Homo sapiens: one gene and its partners. The protein of the gene in region 4 purifies or fractionates together with the protein of the main gene of each other region. This does not show direct contact. Each region holds a gene or a part of one and is shown on either strand. Other genes may lie near its edges. The genes, in order: IFT122, IL22RA2, GAK, IARS2, GRSF1, STAT2 and ASPM.

Region 1 (3,500 bases), on a different chromosome or scaffold from region 4:
CCCACCTGGCACAGGATGATGTGATTGGCACACACCACCAGGAGGTTGCACTCAAACTTCTTGATAATCTTCTCCTTTACCCGGTAATGCATGTCTGATAAGTCCTCTGAATACAACTCATAGATGAGGATTTTCTCTGGCAGTTGGATAGCCAATCGATTTCTGTAGATGGCAATCTTCTTGACAAGCTCTTTGCATTTAATCCGAACTGTCAAAGAAAAAAATATCTAGTTCTAGCAAGAGGTTGTTATGTAAGGTGCAAGGCAGAGAAATTAAAAGCCATCATTTACTTAGCGCTACTGGCAATTAAAGTGAGATACTCTCATTGAAAAATCTTTAGAGTATCTAATACATACAATCAACTCTGCTGAACCCTGGGATCCAAAGTCCTATAGGACACAATCTTCATGGTCCAAGGCTGACAACTGAGTATGGAAATAAACTACTCACTGTTACCATCACTTGCTGGATACAAATATAAACTCCTCTGCACAGCACTAGTGGCCCCCGGTGATCAGAAGCCTGCCTAAGTAACTGACCTCACCTCTGGCCGCTCCCTGCCCACCTCCTTGACAAACGGGGAAGACATGTAATTTCTGGTACACACCAGGCTCTACACTCCCACTACAGACCAGGTGGAGAAAATGTCCCTAAGGGGGACACTGTGAAGCTGCCCAAGGGGCTTTGCCCCAACCACCACAGCCAGAATCTTCAAAAAGATAGGGTCCCCCAGGGGGACCAAAGGACACTCATCTGAATCTACAAGACAACCCCCAACCTGGATCCCTTGCAAAGGCACCTAGCAGTGCACTAAGGCCAGCACATCCAGATATGAATACACCTGAAGTAAGTGGATTGAGTCTATTTAACCAGCACAGCAACTTAAGTGGACAGAGGGAGAGACTGCAGTCTTAGGGCTTAGAATGACTATGCGAGGCCGGGAACTCTGATCTTCTGACCTAGCCTGTGCCAATCCAATTCCACTGCTCATCTCTGGCAGAAGGACCCACCAGGAGGCAAGTGGAGACAGGGCTGAGGGAGAAGCACCCCAGAGTGACTCTGACCAGAAAGGATAAAGGTCCACGAAGACCCATGCAGGTCAACCACCTGGCTCCAACCTGTCATAAATCATCCTCCCTCACTAAGGAAATTCATGTACTCCTTGAAATTATGTGCAAAATTCTGAGTTGGTACATTTTTCAGAGAGGATTTATTGCTTTCATGAGATCCTCAAGGAGACTGGCATCCCTACTTCCCCCACCAAAAAAAAAAAAAAAAGAAAACAAGACACAGACCCAGTGGCTAACAGGTTTGCAAAACGCCAAAGAGAAACCTTTTCCTGTCATTTCAAGTGCCCTGTCACCAGCCCTTTCCACCTGCTTCCACCTGTCCCTCTTCCCAAGGTCTGGACCTGCCTCTTACCTTTCTGCTCAGTGATCAGGTGCTGCACAATGACGTCAGTCATGCTATCCCTGTAGGCATAGCGGTCCTTGTAAAGCCCATGGACTGTGCTGAAAATAAGCTGGTAGAAGGAAATGGTGCCGTCCTGGCAGCCGACCACCTGCGGGGTGAGAGAACTGTCAATTCCCAGCTCTCTGGAGAAAGTCTGCATTCCCCCATTTGTCAGACACAAACCCCAGTGATGTGACTCGAGACACGGCGGCTGCTCAGTGCCTCTTCAAGCCATGGCCCCACAGAACAAACTTTCTCTTCTTACCACATAGTTGGAATCCGGTTTCGCTTGACACGTCCACACCCAGGAGTTCTGCTCCCCAACAGTCCCAAGCCGCACTCCATCCTTGGTGAAAAGAGATACTTGCTTGTCTGAACCCCCCAGCAAAATGTACTCGCCTTTAGTAAAGTAGCTGATGCAGCAGGGGTCAAAGTTCAGTGCCCGATCCTTTCCAATCTGAGGAAAAAGAACACACAGCAAGGGAAAAACCATTTCCGAATCCATAACCATTGCAATACAATTAAGGGCTTTTTCTCGCCAACTTTAGAGGGAGTTGGGAAGACAGGGAGAGCTGGCCAGCCTTTTCTCCTGTGTCATCCCATGGTGAACACAGGCCTCTCTGCCTCTGCATCTCCCTACTCATCCTCTACACAGCCCAAACCTCAGCTCCTGGAGTCAGTGGCACCTCCCCTAGTCCCACCCAAGTGCTCCAGGAGTGCAGGAGTGTGTCAGGGCTCCTCCGCCAAGATGGAGACTGTGGGTGGTTTTGTTCCCAAAGGCCCCCCTCCCTCTGCAAATATAGTTCTTCCTATAGTTCAATGGGTTCCCTCAGCTTCTTTTCTCCGCCTTTTTAAAAAAGTATTTTATAAAGCTGAGTTTATTCAGTTTAAAGACTGTCCTTTATTCTGCAACTACACCCATACTACTTCTCTTCATTTTTTAATTCTTGTTTATTTCAAGATGGGGTCTCACTCTGTCACCCAGGCTGGAGTGCAGTGGTGCAATTACGGCTCACTGCAGCCTTCAACTCCTGGACTCAAGCGATCTTCCTGCCTCAGCCTCCTAAGTAGCTGGGACCATAGGTGAGTGCCACCATGCCTGGCAAAAAATTTTTTTTTTGAAAAAGGGTCTGACTCTGTTGCCCAGGCTGGAGTGCAGTGGCGCCATCTTGGCTTACTGCAACCTCCACTTCCCAGCTTCACGTGATCCTCCTACCTCAGCCTCCCAAGTAGCTGGGACTACAGATGTGTGAGAACACGCCTGGCTAATTTTTGTATTTTTTGCAGAGACGGTGTTTCTCCTTGTTGTCCCGGCTAGTCTCAAACTCCTGAGCTCAGATGATCCACCCACCTTGGCCTCCCAAAGTGCTGGGATTACAGGAGTGAGTCATAGCTCCTGGCCTATATTTTTTTATTTTTAAACTCTACGTTGAACCTTTTTTAGGAACTGCTACACTTTTCAAGTGAATGCACCACTTTATATTTGCATTAGCAGTGTATGAGGATTCCAATTTCTCCATTTTAGTGAGTGCGAATTATCTCATTGTGGTTTCAATTTGCATTTTCCTGATGGCTAATGATATGGAGCATCATTTCATGTGCTTATTGGCCACAGAGAAATGTCACACTCTGTGGCTTAGGCTGGAATGCAGTCGTATGATCATAACTCAATGCAACCTTGAACTTCTGGGCTCAATTCCTCTGCCTCAGCCCCTCACCACCCCCAGTAGCTGGGACTAGAGGCATATACCACCACACTCAGCTAATTAAAAATATATTTTTTTAGAGGTGGGGTCCCACTGTTACCCAGGTTGGTCCTGAACTCCTGTTCTCAAGTGATCTCCCTGTCTCTGCCTCCCAAAGCACTGGGATTACACGTGTGAACCACCATGCCCAGCCCTGTCTTTATAGCTCTTTATATATTCCAGATACAAGTCCTTTATCAGATATATGAGTTGTAAAACTTCTCTCATTCTGTGGGTTGTCTTTTCTCTTTCTTGATGGTGCTTCCTCAGCTTCTAGGATGCAGGTCAAACTCCCGAGCTCAG
Region 2 (3,955 bases), on a different chromosome or scaffold from region 4:
ATCAAACAATACATACAAACATACTGGTGCATGGGCATAATGATTGATGATATCTGGTAGGGGTTTCAAGGTGACCTTGGGTGAAGAATAATCAAAGCTACATATTGGGTACAATGTACATTACTCGGGTAAGAGATGCAATAATATCTCAGACTTCACCACTGTGCAATCCATCCAGGTAACCAAAAACCACTTGCACTATTGCACAGCTACTGAAATAAAAAAAATACATATTTTTTAAATGTTACCACTCCTTTATGTTTTGGTTTTCAGAAATAAATTTTAAAAAATTTTTTAAAGAATAATCAAAGCAAAATCAATAGCATCTTTTATCCAGAAAAATAAGAGTGAAGAGCAGGAAAGGTTAACCTCATTAAGCCCTATGTCCTATGAGTGGAGATTTTAAATAATATATTAGTGATCACAGTCCAAAAACTCAGATTAGTCATTGTGCTTATCACCTGTGTTTGAATAACAATGTTTCTTTTTCTTTTCTGAATTCAAGTTCACAAACCATTTTGAATTTTTGCATGCCAATTATTTCCAGAATGCCGAACTGCTTAAAGGACATGAATATTACTCGGTGGAGCTATTAATGTCCCAGCAAATAAGAAAGAACAAGTTGTTTCCCTGTTGTTGGCTCTACAGCTCTATAGTTTTCCAGAGAGGGAGAAGGGTGGTGTTCAGATTATCATTCATGATGAAACTTTTAAAAGATGCTCAGCTGCCCACCAAATCATAGGATGAAGGAAAGGGCCTAGCAGAAACACAGTTGCTCTGACTTCCCTTCAATGGACAGCACCAAAGTCATACTGAACACCAGTTTTTAAACACTTCTCTGAAAAACAATAAGAAACACTTAGCCCTTTGCTACCAAGACCTGGTTGAAGAAAATGCTGTTGGTTCCCTGAGGGCTGGCTCTGTAGTCTTGTTCATTTCTGCATCCCCGATGTCTAACACAGTGCCTGGCATATAACAGTTGCTCAATAAACATTTGTTTGACTGAATAAACGATTCGAGAAGCCAATGGACAAATGTTCTTTGACATCATTCTATCCCTTTATGGAATGTCTATTACAAGCAAAGAATAACACAAGAGGAGTTTCATAATACTCCTCAGGCCCTGAGGCTAACCAGATCTGATTTCAGCCCTCACTTTACCACTACTCGCTATAGAGCCCTGGTCAAGTTCTCTCCACCTCTCTATCTATGTCTCAGTTTCTTCATCTGTAACATCAAATGAATAATAATACCAATCTCCTAGACTTCATAAGAGGATTAACAAAGACAAAATATGGGAAAAACATAACATGGCGTCCCATAATTATTAGATCTTATTATTGACACTAAAATGGCATTAAAATTACCAAAAGGAAGACAGCATCTGGTAAGTAAACTTTATTTATTTATTTATTTATTTTTTTGAGATGGACTCTCGCTTTATCGCTGCCCAGACTGGAGCGCAGTGGCGCGATCTCGGCTCACTGCAAACCTCACCTCCTTGACTCAAGCAATTCTCCTGCCTCAGCCCCACTGAGTAGCTGGGATTACAGGCACACACCGTCACGCCTGGCTAATTTTTGTATTTTTAGTACAGACGGGGTTGCACCATGTTGGCCAGGCTGGTCTGGAACTCCACACCTCAAATGATCCACCCACCTCCGCCTTCCAAAGTGCTGAGATTACAGGTGTGAGCCACCGTGTCTGGCCACATCTTGTAGATAAACTTTAAAAATCTTTTTTCTTTGTTATGAACAATTTTAAGTACATACAAAAGTAGAGTATAATAAACCTGACACCCAATTTCAACAGTTATCAGCTCATGGATGGTAACCCCCTTTCCCAGGCCTTTGTATTATTTTGAAGCAAATCCCAGACATGACACCATTTCATCTGTAGTACTATAATAGGTAGCTCTAAAAAAAAATAAAAATAATAACCAAAATTCCACATCACACCTAAAAACAATGAAAAATGATTCCTTAATTAGATAAATGGTTGGTCTGCTGGAAGCCACAAGAAGAAAGGAAGAAGAGAATCAAATCTGTTCAAGACAGGGGCTTAAGCAAGTTCTCTCCAGAGTCAACACGATGATGGAAATACCCGTTGTCACCGTCAAGGTGGACTCTCCCTGCTGCGGAGTGGGGCCGAGGTCGGGGGAGGGCAGGGAATGAAGCCAGCATTTCATGCCTGAAAGGAGGCAGAGCGGAGATCCCCTAGTGACTAAAACTTTCTTACTTCCCAAACAAAACAGCATTTCATTTGAAACAATTCTGTACAAATTCTTCTGCTTCCAGATTGATGGGAAATTAGAATTTAATTTTATCTTTTCATCTACCTTGAGGCCTTGTTGACAGTGTTGGCTTTTATGCAGGTTCTATTACACAACTAGAGCTAATTGAACAGTGACAGAACTGGTCTGGTTTGTGAAATTTAATAGAGCACCAAAGCTCACGTTTTGGGGAGAATTCAGTTCTTAAATATGTTTTGCTTATCCCACTCCGCCTAATTTCCCCTCATTTGTTTGACAAAGTCAGCAACCCAGTGGAAACCTCAATTTCGTTCTCTGCTGCTCTCATCATAAAACCTCGAATTTAAATATTTTCCTTTTATTCTTAGCTGGAACTTGGAGCAATTTGGTGGCTTCAAAATGAGATCTATTGGTATTGAAGCCATTGAACATCAATAGTGCAAACCCACATTATCATCCCCCATTTAAATACCAAAGTAAATGTGAAGTGGTAAACATTAGCAGGGAAGTGAATAACAATGCTGAGAAGGTTGCAAGCTAAGGAGCATGAAGAGGTGAAAAGGGAACATAAAACGTGCTGCATGTTTCTTCTTTCAAAGCAGAAGCTACCTTATAAGCACCAAAAACTTCAGCTGGAGGAGATACAAGCCTGGATTCAGAAGACTGCCGTAGAACAGAGGCACTGGGAAACCTGATGTTATCCACACAAACCTTTCCACATAGGGCTGGCCTCAGAAAGCATGCAGCGCAACTGCCCTCCAATAACTGAAATTTGTTAAATGAAAATTGATAGTGGCCTGGTCCACTGGGATCTGGTTTCTGAGGAAATTTCTGATAAGCTCTCTTCTAAGACCCTTTGCTCAGGAATAAGGTTTTCCCTGCGTGGCCCCAGCTCCACCCAAGGCCTCACAGTCTCAGGCACCCGAGTGTCTAGAAATGTTCACAGGTGCTGGGTCATGGGGTTGGGATGGAGGGTCTACACTTGAGAACAACTCCTCTGCTCCTGTCTGTATGCAGAAGGCCATTCTTCCCTTTCTCTTTGAAGACTCTGCCTCCTCCACATCAGCAGCACCCAACCCTCTCCTTTTAGCACTTTCATTTTACCTGCTTCCCCTCCTACATTCTAGTCTTGGTTAATGGTTGTGATGGAGGGTGGGAGGCAAAGTGGCTTTGCAAGCCGGCTTCTGAAACTTTTCATCTCCCATTTAAGAAGGAGAAGAAAAAGACAGAGAAGGTTAGATGAATAGAAGTTGTAACCCTGCTGTAGCTCCTTATTCTCTACTTTTCCCTTGAGAAGCAAGCTTAAGGAAGGCAGGGGCAATGTCTCTCTTATCTGCTGCTGCATCCTTGCTGCTGAGACTAATTCCTAGTTTATGGTAGGACAGCAAATATTTGTGAAATGTTATTGGATAGCTGCATGGATGGATACTGCTTAGCAGCCATCATTATTCCTTACTAAAGGAGCTATTCTACCAAGAACTTGAAAGAGACTATACAAGAGAAAATAGAAACCAGTATACATTTCCCCTTTTGATCTAAAGAGCCTCTCTTTTTAACAACAACAAAAAAACCTTTATGACTTGCGGAGGCTGAAGCAACTTCATTTTTAGATGCTAATCTGCCATGTTGACTTCTGATTAATCCTTTTTCAGGAAGGCTTCTAAGATTTCTAGTTTATCGATTGTTCCTTGTATGAGAACACAT
Region 3 (3,500 bases), on a different chromosome or scaffold from region 4:
TTCCTCACGGCTCTGCAGGCTGGAAGTCCAGGCGCAAGGCGCCGGCAGATCTGGTGTCTGGTGAGGTCCAGCACCTTCTCGCTGTGTCCTCACAGGGCAGAAGGGGTGAGGGAGTGCTCTCTGGGGCAGTAATCCCAGTCCTGAGGGCTCCACCTTCATGGCCTAGTCACCCCCAAGGAGGCCCCACCTCCTAACACCATCACCTTGGGTATTAGGATTTCACACAGGAATTTTGGAGGGGACACAGATTCATTCTGTAGTGTTGTGAATTATGTGTGTATTGAAAATGTTGGTATGTGGTATTTTACGTTAGAAAAGTGTCTGTTTCTTAAAAGAGGCCGAGTTGATTAAAAAAGATACTCAGATCTGCCTGTAGTGGTCCTGTACTGACCTCACTGTCCCCCGGCACTCTGTCCCGTCCCCAGCGTGCTCCGTGCATCCTACACGCATCCTGGTGAGAGGTGTCCTCAGCCCTTTGCATGGACGCTGGTGGGCTGTGTGGGGGAAGGTTGCCCAGCTCTGCTCATGGGGCCTGCAGGCTGCTCGGGGGCACCAGACTCTAGTGTCCCAAGTCCTCAGAGTGTCCCCTGGGGGTTTGTTTTATTTGGACATTTTGATGGGTTTAAAAAGTGTCAAGCTTTGATTTGTGCCTTTCTGAGTAGCGAGTTTGGTAATGCTTATTTGCTGCTCAGCCTCCCCTTCTGGCATTGCACATTCATATCCTGTGCCTGTTATTTTTTTATTCTTATTTTTTTGAGATAGAGTCTTGTTGTGTTGCCCAGGCTGTAGTACAGGGGTGTGATCTCAGATCCTGGCAACCTCCTCCTGAGAGCAGCCCCCGGGCAGAACTCCACCCCCATGACCCAATCAGATCTCACAGGAGAGCACTCACTATCCTGAGAGCAGCCCCTGGGGGAACTCCACCACCACAACCCAATCAGATCTCACAGGAGAGCACTCACTATCCTGAGAGCAGCCCCCCGGGGGAACTCCACCCCCACGACCCAATCAGATCTCACAGGAGAGCACTCACTATCCTGAGAGCAGCCCCGGGAGGAACTCCACACCCATGGCCCAGTCAGATCTCACTATCCTGAGAGCAGCCACGCCATGGGGAACTCCGCCCCATAATCCGGTCACCTCCCACCAGGCCCCTCCTCCAACATTGAGGGTCACAAGTGAACATGAGATTTGCATGGGGACGCAGATCCAAACCGTATGTGCTGTTATGAATAAAGATCCAAACCGTGTCCGCTGTTATGAATAAAGATCCAAACCGTATCCGCTGTTATGAATAAAGGTGCCGAGAACATTTTTTTTCAAGTCTTTTTGTGGACGTGTGTTTTTCTTTGTCTTGGGTAAAAAATACCAAGGAGTAGGATTGCTGATTTACAGGTTGGATTTAGGTTGAACTTCACATGAAACAACCAAACCTCCTTCCACGGTAGCTGCACCATTTTACATTTCCACCAGCTGCAGTGGAGAGTTCCTGGCTCTCCACTTCCTCACCAGCATTTCTTGTGGTCTCTCATTTTGATTACATCCATTCTTGTGAGTGTGCAGTGGTGTCGATCTCATTGTGATTTCATTGGAATTTCCCTGATGATGATGTTCAGCAATTTTTTTTTTTTTTTTTTTTTGAGAGGGAGTCTTGCCCAGGCTGGAGTGCAGTGGCTCCATCTTGGCTCACGGCAAGCTCCACCTCCCAGGTTCAAACAATTCTCCTGCCTCAGCCTCCCAACTAGCTGGGATTAAAGGCATGCACCACCATGCCCAGCTAATTTTGTATTTTTTAGTAGAAATGGGGTGTCACTATGTTGGTCAGGCTGGTCTCAAACTCCTGACCTCAGGTCACCCGCCGGCCTTGGCCTCCCAAAGTGCTGGGATTACAGGCATGAGCCACGGCGCCTGGCCTTTTTGTCCATTTTTTATTGGGCAGGGAGTTTCTGCTTACTCTGGATACAGGTCTTATGTTTATATATTTATATAATTTATGTGAGAAAGAGAAGGCAAGCCTTAGCTGTGGTCACTCTGCTGTCCCAGGCCAGGCTGCCTCAGGGAACCTGGGCCTTGAGATTTGACCTGGCTTGAGCATTTGATGTCTCTGTGCCTCCACTCCCCACCCCTCCACTCCCTGCCCTTGAGATGAGGTCTTGCTTTGTTGCCCAGGCTGGAGTGCAGTGGCATGATCACAGCTCACCACAGTCTTGAACTCCCGGACTCAAGCGATCCTCCCACCTCAGCCTCCCAGGTAGCTGGGACCACAGGCACGCACCACCACGCCTGGCTAATTTTTAATTTATTTCTGGTAGAGATGGAGTCTTGTTATGTTGCCTGTAGGCTGTTCTCAGAACTCCTGGGCTCAAGTGATTCTCCCACCTCGGCCTCCCAAAGTGCTGGGATTGCAGGTGTCAGCCACTGTGCCTGGCCTGTGCCTGTTCCTTAATTGGCAGAGTGTGTGCTGTAAAATGTATATAACAGGGTCTTGGAGGTACCCGACATGCCATTCTTTAATGTCTTATACGTTACTATTATTTTTAAATAAACTGTATTATTTTGAGTTCATTGTAGGTTCCCACGCGGCTGTGAGAAAAGATGGAGATCTTTTCTATTTTAGACCCTTGCCTGGTTTCCCCAGTGGTGACGGTCGGGATGCTAACCCTGGTGCAGGTGAGGCTGTGGAAGTCTCCATCCCCGTAGGGAGCCCTCATGCCACCTCTCAGCCACGCCATTTCCTTACCCTCTGGAAACCTCTAGTCTTTGCTCTGTCTGTGATTTTGTCATTCGAAGGATGCAGTGTAAGGGGAAGTGCAGAATTCTTCAGGTAATTGTGTGTCAGTAGCTTGTTTCCCGTGGTGAGACTCCTCTGCGTGAGTGTGCACGGCTTGCCCAGCCAGCCACCCGTGGAAGGACATCTGGGCTGTTTCCTGTTTTGGCTACTACAGATAAAGCTGCTGTGACACTTGCGTATAGGTTTTTGTGTGAATATACGTTTTCATTTCTGGGATAAATGTTTAAGAGTGCAGTTGCTGGTTCATGTGTGGTAATTATGTGTTTAGTTTGTTAGAAAACTGCCAGATTGTTTTCTTGAGTGGCCATACATTCCCACCAGCAATGTAGGAGCGTATCAGCCTGGTTAGGCTGCCATAACAAAATACTCCAGACTGAGTGGGGAGCAGTAGAAATTCACTCTCGCAGTTCTGGAGGCTTGAAGGCCAAGAGCAAGATGCTGTCAGTGCTGATTCCAGGAGAGGCCTCTTTTGCTGGTTTGCAGATGCTGCCTTTTTTTTTTTTTTTTTTTTGAGATGGAGTCTCGCTCTGTCACCCAGACTGGAGTGCAGTGGCGCAATCTCAGCTCACTGCAACCTCTGCCTCCTGGGTTCAAGCAGTTCTCTTGCCTCAGTTTCCTGAGTAGCTGGGACTACAGGCGCCCACCACCATGCGCCGCTGATTTTTGTATTTTTAGTAGAGACGGGGTTTCACCATGTTTCCCAGGTTGG
Region 4 (3,500 bases):
TTACAGGCGTGAGCCCCCACGCCTGGCCCTTTTACATGTTTTTGTTTCTTAACATGCGTTTTAAAGACCAGTAAAAGGGCAGATCCTATTTTTTTCAAATTGTCTTTTGAAAATAATTTTGAGATGATAATCTGCTCTTTTTAAGACATACTTTTTCCTGGTTTTATTTTTTCATTTAAAATTTTTTTTTTTTTTTTTTTTTAGTGAGTTATATAGTTTTTCCGCTATCACCACAAGAGGTTTTATAACATTTCCAACACACTAAAAAGTTTTCTCATGCCCATTTGTGACTAATCTCCACTCCCACCCCAGGGCCCCTGGCAACCACTGATCTCCTTGCTGTCTCTGTAGTTTGCTCTTTCTAACCTGGTTAGTTTTAATGATAAAATCAGTACATAGCAGAAGCTCAGAAAATAATCTGTTTAGTGATGAAAATATCTAAAGTTTTCCTTTGTGTAAGTCGAGAGTTAACTGTTTGACTATTGTGATACATGAGCTAAGAATGACTTTTTTTGTTTGAGATGGAGTCTTACTCTGTCTCCCAGGCTGGAGTGCAGTGGAACGATCTCAGCTCACTGCAATCTCCGCCTCTTGGGTTCAAGTGATTCTCATGCCTCAGCCTCCCAAGTATCTGGGACTACTGGCACACACCACTATACCCAGCTAATTTTTGTATTTTTAGTGGAGACAGGGTTTCACCATGTTGGCCAGGCTGGCCTCGAGCTCCTGGCCTCAAGTGATCTGCCTGCCTTGGCCTCCCAGAGTGTTGGGATTACAGGCGTGAGCCACTGCACCCAGCCGAATTTGACTTTTAAGGAAAGGTTTCGGCCGGGCAGGGTGGCTCATACCTGTAATTCCAGCACTTTGGGAGGCCGAGTTAGGTGGATCCCCTGAGGTCAGGCGTAGGTAGGAGAATCCCTTGAACCTGGAAGGCAGAGGTTGCAGTGAGCCGACATCATGCCACTGCACTGCAGCCTGGGCAACAAGAGTGAGACTCCATCTCAAAAAAAAAAAAAAAAAAAAGAGAAGAAAAGAAAAGAAAAGGTTTTATTCATAATCAGTCAAGAAAAATCATATTTTTGTGTCAAACTTAGATACTCTTTTTAAGCTGTACCTAATCTTCAAAAAGATAATTATAATTGTGTTTATCATTAAAATAGCTGATTTGTCCCTTTAGGACAGTGATTGTTCATGGATTTACCCTTGGAGAAAAGGGAGAAAAGATGTCCAAGTCTCTTGGGAATGTCATTCATCCTGATGTTGTCGTTAATGGAGGACAAGTAGGTGATTCTCTAAAATGTATTTTATTTTCGTTTTAAGGATCTTAAATTGGCAGCCAAAGCCCTTAATATAGTTACTTCAATGTAAAAATAAAAACTATCTTTTATACTCTCAAATAACACATGATTGTAATGAAGAAGGCAGAGGCTGGGATTGTGGTCCTTTTAACTTATTTCAGGCCTGACTCTCCAGTTAGGTCCCAAACCACGCTGTTTCTTTTTTAATTGTCTGAGAGCCTTTAAAATGTGTAGATCCTTTTGTGATTCGTAAGCGTGATGATTGGGTTTTCGCACTATTGTGTGAGGTGTGCCTCCCTCAAACCTTGTTACAGTGTTGGCACATTGCTGTCTGAAGTGAAAAAAGAATATGTAAAGTGTGATTGTGTAGTTAAATGGAAATGATGAAAAATGAGATTGCAACTTCAAAATGCGCATTTCATTATTATATTGTTGAAAATTATACACTTTAAAGCAGGTCCTAAATGTACATCAAATCTGAGGTTGCTGATAATTTGGGGGGGTTTTTGGAGCTGCTTTTGTGAATTAAATCATTTGTCTGTTTTTTTCTATTTTTTAACTCCTGTAGCTTTTTACTGCCCGCCTAACATCCTGTAACCGTTCATTGTTTTGTGTACAGAGTTGCTAGGAAATAGTGAAAGGAAAAGCAGTCCTTCCTCTTCCCCTCCCTTATTATAGAGACCTCCCTGGCACTGCTGTGTGTCTAACCACCAGCTGTAATAGAGGAAACAGACATGACCAGGGAAGAGATTAGGTATGAGCATTTGTGCATTGAACAAGATTGCAGAGCACGCTCTTTCTTTTTCCAGTTTTGTTTTTAGATACAGTCTAATTTGAGATTGTTAGCCCGCATTTCATTACAGTGCTAGTATAGTTTGTACTTACATTGTGCTCAAAAATATCTGAATAGGAGCTTTACCTAAAACATTTGTTCGGCTAATTGGAATTGAAAGCCATTGTGTTTATATATTTTTTTCTCAATGAAAAGGATCAAAGCAAAGAGCCTCCGTATGGTGCTGATGTCCTTCGCTGGTGGGTAGCTGATTCCAATGTCTTCACCGAAGTTGCAATTGGCCCATCCGTGCTCAATGCTGCCAGAGATGATATTAGCAAGGTTAGAACTATTATTCTTCCTATTTCTAAAGGACAAGTTTGTCAAATCATTGTTTTAAAAAATGAGACACATTTTGTTTGGAACTGAAAAAAACTGAATGAAAACGAGTTCTTCATTTATTGTGAGATTTTAAGAATCTCCTGTGTTGGCCAGGCATGGTGGCTCATGCCTGTAATCCCAGCACTTTTGGAGGCAGAGGCAGGTGGATCACGAGGTCAGGAGTTCGAGACTAGCCTGGCCAACATAGTGAAACCCTGTCTCTACTAAAAATACAAAAATTAGCTGGGCATGGTGGCATGCACCTGTAGTCCCAGCTGTTCGGGAGGCTGAGGCAGGAGAATCACTTGAACGCAGGAGGCGGAGGTTGCAGTGAGCCGAGATCGCGCCACTGGACTCCAGCCTGGCGACAGAGCAAGACCTTGTCTCAAAAAAAACAAAAAACTCCTGTGTAAATTTATTTGTTTCAAAACATTGGTAGTAATACCAGTAATTTTATATAATTTGTATATAATATCCTTTATATTTTATTAATATATAAAATGTAATATAGCATAGTATAGATTATATTAATTTTGTATACTTTTATGTACTCAATAACCTTTCACATTTTTCCATGTATCTTTATTTCATTGTGAAGCAAGTGAAATAACATTATTCTGACCCACACACATGAATAAACTGGGCTACTGAAAGGTGATTTGCCCCAACGTAATAAAGAAATATAATGAAAATTCAGTCGTTAGGCGTAAAATCCAGTGGTTGTTCCTATAACTGGGCTATTGGAATAAGAGTTTGTTGTGTACTTTTTGTTTTTTATTTTTTTACATTTGTAGTCTTATTTGGAATGATAATAAAAATACCCCACTAAGAAAATGACAAGAGTTAGTAATAAAATAACTTTTCAGTGAAAATTGAAGGCACCATTAGATTTTTTTAACTGCATATTTTTTCTTCCTATGAATAGCTTAGGAATACACTTCGCTTTCTTTTGGGAAATGTGGCTGATTTCAACCCAGAAACAGATTCCATCCCTGTAAACGATATGTATGTCATAGACCAGTACATGCTACACTTACTGCAGGATTTGG
Region 5 (3,500 bases), on a different chromosome or scaffold from region 4:
AGCTTAACATCATCAGTAGTACTGCCTAGATGGAAATGCGTTTTCATATATGGTTGAATATGCCAAGCTATGAGAACTGGTATCTGTAGTTGTACGAACTATTAGAATGTGATCTTTGTTGCTCTTTCACATTTGGTATCTGATTTGCTGTGGAAAAGATCTGTGGGGCCTACTGTGAGGAATTCATCTGCAATTGATTTAAGCTAATGAGTTTTATTTGCACATCTCTGGAAAAAGAATGCAAGCAAAGCATTAAAATGCTATATGATGGATGGGTAAGGTTGAAAGGATATATCTTCTTGGCACGCTACAGGCTGAGTTTTCTGTACAAAATGTGGCCATTATTGGGAAATCATTTTATGTATTTGAATGCTCCCTTTTGTTTTTGTTCATGATCTAGGCTAGTACGTAAGTGATTGCTAAGGTGGATGTAGTTATGGGAAAGGAAGAGAAGCACATAATACAGTAAAAGTAATCTTATTTCCATGCAAGTGGAAGACGGTACCGTCTCCCCACATTTGAGAAGACTGTTTTGCATCACTCTTTGCTATTGAAGGAAGCAGTGATGGTGAATTTCCTTCTGTTTGGGTTCCTTGTGTCTATAACTTCCTTTGTGGTAAAGCCATCAGGAAGAATAGTGGGAGTGGGGCATATGGTCAGGGTGCTCATATCCTGCTTTAGCCTAGCTGCTGCTTACGGAGTGCAAGGGAGAACTCTGAGAAGCAGTATGTAAATACCAGGGAGCTGATTGCTGAATATTGTGGTCTCATCTGAATATTGTGGTCTCATCTAAATATTGACACCAGGCAATGAAGCAGAAATAGAGTATGTGTCCCTTTATGCGTGGGTAACTTAAGCTTCTGTCATGTGGGAAGGGGGACCGAATCTTCCCTGGGAGGAAGGCTCCAAATTCTCACTACTTCTGTGTTACTTGAAGGGGGAAGCATAAGGAACCCAGTTTGAAGGCAACATTGTGTGCCATGAATCTGCTTATTAATCAACATGCCTTGTTAATGTCCTCTGCCCTGAACAGCCCTTACTCAGTTCTCATTTGGAAAGTTATTTTTTGGGGTTACATCCTGTTTGTTTCAGAATTTAAAACCCTCCATGGTGGGTCACTTGAGGTCAGGAGTTCAAGATTAGCCTGGCCAACTTAGTGAAACTCCGGCTCTACTGAAAATGCAAAAATTAGCCAGGTGTGGCACACGCCTGTAATCCCAGTTACTTGGGAGGCCAAGGCAGGAGAATCGCTTGAACCTGGGAGGCAGAGGTTGTAGCGAGCCAAGATCACACCATTGCACTCCAGCCTGGGCAACAGAGTGAGACTCTGTCAAAATCAAAAAAACCAAAATACAAAAAACTCCATTGTTCTGAGAGTTTCCCCTAAATTATCGGAAGACACTCACATTGAATTGGTAGGACCTATAGTATAGAGGAGAATGGTATGTATGTCAGCAGTAGAGTTCCAATCCAAATTGCGCTATCGCATTAGAAATACATTACCCTCCCACTCCCCAAGTTCAGCAAATTAGAAGAGAATCTGAAGTTTGTAGGAAGGGAATAAAGCTGCTATAAACATTTATGTGCAGGTTTTTGTGTAGACTCGTTTTCAGCTCCTTTGGGTAAATACCAAGGAACCAGGTTGCTGGATTGTAAGTTAAGAGTATGTTTAGTTTTGGAAGAAACTGCCAAACTGTTCCAACATGACTATTTTGAATTCCCATTGACAATGAATAAGAGTTCCTGTAGCTCCTCACCCTCATTAGTATTTGGTGATGTCACTCTTGCATTTTAGCTAATGGGTGAATAGTGGTCTCATCGTTTTAATTCCCAATCCCATAGTGATGTGGAGCACCTTTTCATATACTTAATCTGCCATCCTTATATCATCATTGGTGAGGTGTCTGGATTTTCTGTCCAGAATTTTAGTTCTAGTGGTTTTCTTATTTTTAGAAAGGAAGTATAGGAAGGAAGGTTTAATCTGTCTTAAGCCTGATTATATGAAAATCAAGAATAGGCTAGGTGTGGTGGCTGACATCTGTAATCCCCGCACTTTGTGAGGCTGAAGTGGGAGGACTGCTTGAGCCTGGGAAGTCAAGCCTGCAGTGAGCCATGACTGTTGCTGCACTCCAGCCTGAGTGACAGAGTGAGACCCTGTCTCAGAAAAAAAAAAAGCAGGCTCATTTTAAAGTTGTTTATATTTTATTTTTTGAAGGAAATAAACTTGAAGAGATACAAACGGTAGTGAAGATTCTCCTTCCCCTCCTGTAATTCAGCTGTTTAGTTTCTATTCTCGCACAGCCCTGTTATCAGTTTCTAGTGTAAGCTTGCAGTGACTTTTACTTTATTTATAAGCAAGTGTTAGTGGGTGTTGTCATTTCTTTTAAAAATATAAATTATACTGTACATGCTATTTTGTATTTTGGCTTTTCTCCCACCTAAACACCCTAAAGATCATTTTCTGTCAGTATATAAAATCTTGGTGATGCCAATACCCATCCCTTAGATTGTACAAGCAGCATTTTGCCATGCTTTATCCCATAGCCTGCCTCCTGCAGTCTCATCTTTTTTTCTATATGCATGTCCAAGTAAGTTGTAGACATTTTTCACTTTTAATCCTTTCAGCATACATGTCATGGGAATTTGTTTTTGTTTTTGTTTTTTGTGTTTGAGACAGTCGCTCTGTCACCCAGGCTGGAGTTATAGTGACGTGATCCCAGCTCATTACAGCCTCCACCTCCCAGTTTCAAGCAATTCTCATGCCTCAGATTCCCGAGTAGCTGGGATTACAGATGTGCACCACCACGCCTGACTAATTTTTGTATTTTTAGTAGAGATGGGGTTTCATCATGTTGGCCAGGCTGGTCTGGAACTCCTGGCCTCCAGTCATTTGCCTGCCTCGGCCTCCCAAAGTGCTGGGATTACAGGCATCAGCCACCACACCCAGCCGTCATTGGAGTTTTTTTGAGGGAGATTTGCAGTAAGGTGAATAAATGTTAAGTGTATCATTTGATGAGGTTTTTTCTTTTTTTTTTTTTTTTTTTGAGATGGAGTCTTGTATCGCCCAGGCTAGAGTGCAGTGGCCTGGTCTTGGCTCACTGCAACCTCCACCTCCTGGGTTCAAGGGAGTCTCCTGCCTCAGCCTCCCGAGTAGCTGGGATTACAGGTGTGAGCCACCATACCCAGACTCATTTGATGAGTTTTGATGTAAAAGCATGTAACTCAAACCCCTATGTCTGGAACATCTGTATTACATCTGAATTTTTTCACCTAGTCAATTCCTGCACCTCTCTCTCCTGTCCCTTCTTCCCTCCCCTGGCAGTCAGCTACTGTTAGGATTTTGTTCACTGTAGATTAATTTTGCCTATTCTAGAACTTCATATAACGGACTCACTTATGCAGTATGTATTCTGTAAGTTCCTTTTACTCAGCATGTTTGTATGTTCATCAGTGTGTTTAAGCTTTGTTCCTTTTTATGGCTGAGCAGTGTTCTATGTATG
Region 6 (3,500 bases), on a different chromosome or scaffold from region 4:
CCAAGATCATGCCACTTCACTCCGGCCCAGGCAAAAGAGTGAGAGTCCATCTTAAAAAAAAAAAAAAAAAAAAAAAAAAAATACAGATTAGGCATTCCTAATCTGAAAAATTTGGCTCCAAAATGCTCCAGTGAGCATTTCCTTTGAGTGTCATGTGGGTGCTCAAAAAGTTAGATTTTGGACCATTTCAGATTTCAGAGTTTTGGATTAGGGATGCTCGACTGGTAAGTAATGCAGATATTCCAAAATCTGGACAAATCTGAAATCCAAAATGCTTGGAATAGCAGATACTCAACTGGTAGCACTCCCTGGAAGAATATGCACCAAACTGATAGCAGTGGTTACTTCTGGAGAGGAGGGGAAAGAACCAAGATTAGCAGTAGGATCAACATATATTTTAATGTTTTCTGTATTTTTATTACTTGTATAATTTAAACATTTTAAATTAGTAATAATGAACAATCATGAAACTATGGATGATTTAGTCCAGCAAAATATCCAATTGGGAACCCTCATCCTTCTGACGCAGAGCCCAAATGGCGCAGTGGGAAATGCTGCAGAATCTTGACAGCCCCTTTCAGGATCAGCTGCACCAGCTTTACTCGCACAGCCTCCTGCCTGTGGACATTCGACAGTACTTGGCTGTCTGGATTGAAGACCAGAACTGGTGAGGCCTTCAGGAAGTTGGGGGAATGAAAAAGGTGGTTCCTTACTTCTGGGCCCCCGGGATCCTGGAATCATTAATGGCAGGAAGGGGTTGGAAAGCCTCAGGACTACAGTAACACTGCAGAGACACTAATACTTCTTATTCCTGGTGCCCAGGCAGGAAGCTGCACTTGGGAGTGATGATTCCAAGGCTACCATGCTATTCTTCCACTTCTTGGATCAGCTGAACTATGAGTGTGGCCGTTGCAGCCAGGACCCAGAGTCCTTGTTGCTGCAGCACAATTTGCGGAAATTCTGCCGGGACATTCAGGTACTTGGAACGGTTGGGAGTGATGGGGTAGCACTGGGAGCTGAGCATAGAGGAGTAAGGTTTGGAGAATAGAATAGTACCTGGAGGTGGAAAGGGAGACGGGAACAAATGTGGGGAAAGGAGGACAGAGTCTGGACTTGGGGAATCACTAGCAGAGAGAAGGGTTGCATATACGTGACACTGTTGGGAGGATGCTATGGTGAAAAGACAAAGGGCTAAGAACCCCGAAGGAGGAGGAAATACTGTGGACATTGGTGGGGAGGGTCTAGGGCAATAGGTCATTGAGAGTGGTTGAATTGGATCAATCCTTTCTGTTTACCTATTCTAGCCCTTTTCCCAGGATCCTACCCAGTTGGCTGAGATGATCTTTAACCTCCTTCTGGAAGAAAAAAGAATTTTGATCCAGGCTCAGAGGGCCCAATTGGTGAGGACAATTCAGTGGTAATGTTGGAAACTCCTGAAGTAGAGAGGAACCATGGAAAGGACTCAGGGAGTTGTCTCAGAACAGGATCCCCCCGACATCCTGTGGTATAATTTCAGGCCTGAACTTAAGGCATGAAAGGCCAGAGTTAAAACGTGCTCAGAGCCTCTTTTTTCAGGAACAAGGAGAGCCAGTTCTCGAAACACCTGTGGAGAGCCAGCAACATGAGATTGAATCCCGGATCCTGGATTTAAGGGCTATGATGGAGGTTAGTAGATGTGGTAGGAGTTAGGGTTGACAGCGTTCAGCCTAACACCTCCCTGAGAAGCAGCCTCATCGGGGTCCTCTCCCCTCTGCAGAAGCTGGTAAAATCCATCAGCCAACTGAAAGACCAGCAGGATGTCTTCTGCTTCCGATATAAGATCCAGGCCAAAGGTAGGAAGCACATTGAGGGGCTGGAGAAAGATAAGTGCCTGCTGAGAAGCCGGAGCTGGAAGTGAACAGGAGAAAGCTCCGATGAGCAGTAGTCACTGTCAGACACACCCCACTGACTACAGTCCTGCTGCCGTGCAAAGCTGGAAGTGCTTTGTGGAGGCTGAGCTGGAGGTGCAGCTGAGAGACAGTAAATGTTGAGGAAATGCATGGAAAACTAACAGTGTTTTATTTGAGGGGGTGTCTGGTCCAAGCATGACCATTCAGAATTTGCCTGAGGGTCCCACAGGTGCCTGTGCTTTGCTTGGTTTCCCTTTCTTCCTCCACAAAATTCCTCCTTCCTGACTCTGACTGAGACCCCAGTCAGGAAGGAGAGGAAAGAACCCCTGGACTGACTCCTGTTCCCACCATCCAGGGAAGACACCCTCTCTGGACCCCCATCAGACCAAAGAGCAGAAGATTCTGCAGGAAACTCTCAATGAACTGGACAAAAGGAGAAAGGTGGGAGACAGAGGACAGAACATGTGGGCAACAAGGACCTGGAAAAATGAGGGATGTGGGGACCCTGGTCCTCTAGCGCTGGCTTCTTTGTTTCTTCATCCCCAGTTGGGTGGTGGAGGGTGAAAGGGAGAGATGCTCAACACTCACATTATCTCTTTCCCAGGAGGTGCTGGATGCCTCCAAAGCACTGCTAGGCCGATTAACTACCCTAATCGAGCTACTGCTGCCAAAGTTGGAGGAGTGGAAGGCCCAGCAGCAAAAAGCCTGCATCAGAGCTCCCATTGACCACGGGTTGGAACAGCTGGAGACATGGTGAGAGGTACCACCCCAACCCTCGTCCTCGCCATGCGCTGTGATTTGTAAGTTGCAGTGCCCTGCATATAGCAAGAGATACTGTTCTCTATTTGTCTCTGCTCCCCAGAATGAGCCCTGCTCCCTGCTGACTGCAGCTCTATTCTGCTCCTCATCCTCACCACGCAGGGAGCCCAGAGCCCAGTCTCCTTCAGGGAAAGGAATGAATTAACCCACAATCTGGTTTTTCCTTCTTTTTTAATCACCCAGAAATATATATATATGTATTTTTTTTTTTACTGCAACGAATACAATGACAAGAAAGGAAGGAAGGAAGGAGGAAGAGAAAATTACCTATTACCTAGCTTATTAAACAAAAATGGAATCATATTGTCCATACTATTTTGAAATCCATGGGGTTTTTTTTAAGCTTAACAGTATTTTTTATATATATATATATATATATATATTTTTTTTTTTTTTTTTTTTTTGAGACGGAGTCTCTCTCTGTTGCCCAGGCTGGAGCGCAGTGGCACGATCTCAGCTCACTGCAACTTCCAACTCCCAGGTTCAAGCAATTCTCCTGTCTCAGCCTCCCGAGTTGCTGGGATTACAGGCACACACCACCATGCCTGGCTAGTTTTTTTGTATTTTTAGTAGAGACGATGTTTCTCCATGTTGGCCAGGCTGGTCTCAAACTCCTGACTTCAGGTGATCCACCCAACTTGGGCTCCCAAAGTGCTGGGATTACAGGCGTGAGCCACCATGCCCGGCCAACAGTATATTATATTTATCCATGTTATTTCTTATGTCCACACAACAGTCCCCTATATGGTGGTAACATAATTTAATTAATGAACTCCTATTTTCAGCTATTTA
Region 7 (3,500 bases), about 23 Mb from region 4:
TTGGGATTTAAGCACACTTTGTTTCTTCTCTCAACCCTTGGTTTCTTGATACCATAATCTCTTAGCTGTCTTCTTTCCCTCTTAACGCTATGTTGGCTTCTCTTGTCAATGTCTGTAAATTTTGATGTTCTTCAGGTGTGATGTGTGTGTGTGTATATATATATATATTTGTAAATATATATATACACACACGTATATCTATACATATATATAATTTTCTCATTAAAACTTTGTTTTAATGGGTCTCAAAATTCTGTGACAGATTTTCGGTCAATTTGTTTTCATTAAAAAGTACTGATTTTAAAAACTAGTAACTTATAACTGCCACAAGCAAAACAAAAACAAAAACACCAAAATGGTCCACAAAACATTCTCCTTTCCTCCTGAAGGTTTTATGATGCAGTGTTACCATTAACCAGTCTTTTACTGTTACAGTTAAATGGCCAATTGAAACAAACAGTTCTGAGACCATTCTTCTACCACTGATTAAGACTGAGGTGGCAGGTATTGGGGATATACATAAATAATGTATGCAGATTTACATAAAAACCGTATACAATATAGTCTGAATGAGTTAAGGTCATCTCAGAGTAATTTTGGCCATATATAATTATTGCATTATCAACTGAATTTAGAACCTAATCTAAATATACGTTGTGCCTATAGTATTTGTTGTGCTGCGGGATAATTAAGGAATCAGAGAGACCGAGGGATTTGAGGAGGAATTATTTAATTATTTATGTGCACCGACCCAGTCGGATTAACATCCAAAGAGGACTGAGCCCTGAACAAAGAGTCAAGCTACCTTTTAAGCATTTCGTGGGGCATGGGGAGATCTGTGCAGGGGGAAGCGTATTACAGAAGAGAGAAACAAAGACAGTTATTCAAGTAAGAGATGCATTACATTATTTCTTACTTTTTAAGGAACAACATGTTTTACAACTTGAGATTATCTGTCTAGTGTCCTTGCAGCTGCACAGCTAGAGAAACAGTCTTCACAATGCCTGGGAAAGGGAGAGATAAGGCTCACTAGCCACAGAGAGAAAAACACAGTTAATTTTAAAGGACTCCAGCCCTTTCTCTTCCCAAGGGGAATTGGGTTTTCTTACATACAACTGAGTTTTTGCTTACACAGTCTTTAATTTCTTTTAATTCCTCTTCCTGTAGGGATGTTGGAGTCAAATAGACTTGGGTTCAAATCTTGACTCTGTCACTTAACAGCTATATGCTAACAAGTCCTTCTTAATTTCAATTTTGGATTTTTTTCCTTTTTTATAAAACAGAGATCTTAACCATTTTATAAGATATTTATAAATATTAAGTAAGACAACTCTGCCACTTATTAACCTGTGTGACATCAACAAGTTACTCAATTTCTCTAGGCCTTGATTTCCTCATCTCTAAATTAGAGATAATAGTATTATCTACCCATGTGATTATTAAGGACTAATCTTCTTAGTGCTTAGTTCAATAAGTTGTAGCTGTCATGTAAACCTTTAGTCTTCCAGAAGGTTGTCAAAATCAGAAAGTCTGACAGTCCTATCACAGGAGCTCTCAGGATTCTCCTGCAGGCTGAACACAGAACCCAAAGTGAATATGGATTGGGAAGAATTCCTCTTTCTCCCCAGAACCTGCAGTAGGTCAATGTGTTCATTTTCTTTTCTTCCAAATGGATTGAGGTGATGAGGATAATTTACATAATGTGGGGCTTTTCAGACATGTGTGTCTTACAATTTATAAATACTGGTTAGGGTTTTGTTAGGCTGGGCTGGCAGCCAGCCATAAGGTATGTGTGATAAAGCACATAATACGTGTTCACTATAGTAAGCACCACTGTTCTCAGAAGACTCATTACATGTCAAAGTCTAAAAGAGTCATGATATGACTATGCAATTTATTTTTGTCTGCACTAACCTTATTTTAACTGTCTTTATACTGATTTGTCTTATTTACAAAAAAAAAGAGACAACTCATTGCATACTTGTTATATTTATGTATTTAATAGGCTATGTGGAGGAGATATAGAGCCAAGAAATATTTATGTAAAGTGAAAGCTGCCTGCAAGATTCAAGCCTGGTATAGATGTTGGAGAGCACACAAAGAATATCTAGCTATATTAAAAGCTGTTAAAATTATTCAAGGTTGCTTCTATACCAAACTAGAGAGAACACGGTAATGTATCATAGTTCTGTGGAGAGTGTAAAAGTATTTGTGTGTGATAGCTAAGTCTTTACATAAAATAACACTGCTTATTGATTTTTATTTTAAATATTTGTTATGCTTAATTTATATGGTTGGTTTTGTTGATATTTTCTTTATTAAGGAAACAAAATACATCTCTCGTACTGTCTTGCTTTTTTGAGATAGAGCATAGCCTTTAATTAATATAATCTAAAAATATTATATACTTGATTAATTCAGGTTCATAAGGATTAGAGTAAGGACAGAGACGTAGGAAGTGAATAAAATCATTTAGTTAAGACTTGGTTTTCTTATTAGTGCTTTGGGCCATTTTGCTGGGTGACTTAACTACTGGCAAAATTTGTTTTCTTACTCATTCTTTTTTTCTTTGAACTTTGTATTATTCCTCATACTCTTTGTCATTAATGATGAAGACCCTAATTACCAACCTGTCTATGCTAATTGTATTTCACTATTCCTAGCTTATTTCTCACACACACATTTTCAGAAGCTGTTACCAGATCATCTTTTTTTAAGTTCATAGTATAAGAATTTTTCTTCAGCTCCCAGAGTTGATGAATTATTGAATCAATGATGGTTTTAAAGATGGTTTAGGAAGGCACACTAGTGTGAGAGGAATTTTTGGATGAAGCCCATGGGTAGAAGCAGGGCTTAACATATACAGTTGATCGCATGAAGATAGAAGTAGAATGTTGGTTACCAGAGGCTAGGATAGGGAGAGGGGAGGGGTGGATAACGACAGGCTGGTTAATGGGTACAAAAATACAGTGAGAAGGAATAAGATTTACTGTTTAGTAGCACAATAGGGCAACTATAGTTAACAATAATTTATTGTATATTTCAAAATAACTAGAGGAATAGAATTAGAAGTTTCCTAATAGAAGGAAATGATAAATGTTCGAGGTGATGGATATCCCATTTACCCTGATTTGATCATTACTCATTGTGTGCTTGAATCAAAATATCACATGTACTCTGTAAATATTTACAACTATTATATATCCATAAAAATAAAAATTAAAAAGCATATAAAGATACAGTTGCTACTATCAGCTATTAAGGACCAGTATCTAATTTTCCTGTAACAGATGCTGAATTTTTCTCAATGGTGTTTGGTCCTATTTTCTAAGAAACATGGCAACAAAACAAGCTACTCATTGTACTTTTTCCACATTATCAAGAACAGAGTAGAAAACCTGTCCATTCTCACATTTTATCTCTTAGTATTATGTTGATCCCTAAAATTTAATCTCTAGTGCTCAGATTTTTTAAAATTTTTCTCCAGTTCTGTTTACGAA

Evidence for each region.
Region 1: the proteins of IARS2 (region 4) and IFT122 purify together in Homo sapiens (affinity purification with mass spectrometry; one large-scale study listed by BioGRID and IntAct). This does not show direct contact.
Region 2: the proteins of IARS2 (region 4) and IL22RA2 purify together in Homo sapiens (co-immunoprecipitation; one large-scale study listed by IntAct). This does not show direct contact.
Region 3: the proteins of IARS2 (region 4) and GAK purify together in Homo sapiens (affinity purification with mass spectrometry; 2 studies listed by BioGRID and IntAct, with this or other methods). This does not show direct contact.
Region 5: the proteins of IARS2 (region 4) and GRSF1 fractionate together in Homo sapiens (co-fractionation; one large-scale study listed by BioGRID). This does not show direct contact.
Region 6: the proteins of IARS2 (region 4) and STAT2 purify together in Homo sapiens (affinity purification with mass spectrometry; 2 studies listed by BioGRID and IntAct, with this or other methods). This does not show direct contact.
Region 7: the proteins of IARS2 (region 4) and ASPM purify together in Homo sapiens (affinity purification with mass spectrometry; 2 studies listed by BioGRID and IntAct, with this or other methods). This does not show direct contact.

Annotation. Positions count from the first base shown.
Region 1 is NC_000003.12:129,474,724-129,478,223, reverse strand, and holds part of IFT122 (intraflagellar transport protein 122 homolog), read right to left. Parts: intron 1,910-3,500; coding exon 1,718-1,909; intron 1,562-1,717; coding exon 1,423-1,561; intron 209-1,422; coding exon 6-208; intron 1-5. UniProt on the Homo sapiens protein: As a component of the IFT complex A (IFT-A), a complex required for retrograde ciliary transport and entry into cilia of G protein-coupled receptors (GPCRs), it is required in ciliogenesis and ciliary protein trafficking.
Region 2 is NC_000006.12:137,170,845-137,174,799, reverse strand, and holds the start of IL22RA2 (interleukin-22 receptor subunit alpha-2 isoform 1 precursor), read left to right. Parts: upstream 1-1,155; 5' UTR 1,156-1,387; intron 1,388-3,955. UniProt on the Homo sapiens protein: Isoform 2 is a receptor for IL22. Binds to IL22, prevents interaction with the functional IL-22R complex and blocks the activity of IL22 (in vitro). May play an important role as an IL22 antagonist in the regulation of inflammatory responses.
Region 3 is NC_000004.12:922,317-925,816, reverse strand, and holds part of GAK (cyclin-G-associated kinase), read left to right. Parts: intron 1-3,500. UniProt on the Homo sapiens protein: Associates with cyclin G and CDK5. Seems to act as an auxilin homolog that is involved in the uncoating of clathrin-coated vesicles by Hsc70 in non-neuronal cells. Expression oscillates slightly during the cell cycle, peaking at G1.
Region 4 is NC_000001.11:220,135,632-220,139,131, forward strand, and holds part of IARS2 (isoleucine--tRNA ligase, mitochondrial precursor), read left to right. Parts: intron 1-1,177; coding exon 1,178-1,280; intron 1,281-1,532; exon of another isoform or gene 1,533-1,635; intron 1,636-2,286; coding exon 2,287-2,412; intron 2,413-3,376; coding exon 3,377-3,500.
Region 5 is NC_000004.12:70,815,891-70,819,390, reverse strand, and holds part of GRSF1 (G-rich sequence factor 1), read left to right. Parts: 3' UTR 1-3,500. UniProt on the Homo sapiens protein: Regulator of post-transcriptional mitochondrial gene expression, required for assembly of the mitochondrial ribosome and for recruitment of mRNA and lncRNA. Binds RNAs containing the 14 base G-rich element.
Region 6 is NC_000012.12:56,353,608-56,357,107, reverse strand, and holds part of STAT2 (signal transducer and activator of transcription 2), read left to right. Parts: intron 1-529; 5' UTR 530-536; coding exon 537-667; intron 668-822; coding exon 823-976; intron 977-1,304; coding exon 1,305-1,400; intron 1,401-1,575; coding exon 1,576-1,665; intron 1,666-1,756; coding exon 1,757-1,832; intron 1,833-2,244; coding exon 2,245-2,330; intron 2,331-2,493; coding exon 2,494-2,642; intron 2,643-3,500. UniProt on the Homo sapiens protein: Signal transducer and activator of transcription that mediates signaling by type I interferons (IFN-alpha and IFN-beta).
Region 7 is NC_000001.11:197,094,670-197,098,169, reverse strand, and holds part of ASPM (abnormal spindle-like microcephaly-associated protein), read left to right. Parts: intron 1-2,005; coding exon 2,006-2,172; intron 2,173-3,500. UniProt on the Homo sapiens protein: Involved in mitotic spindle regulation and coordination of mitotic processes.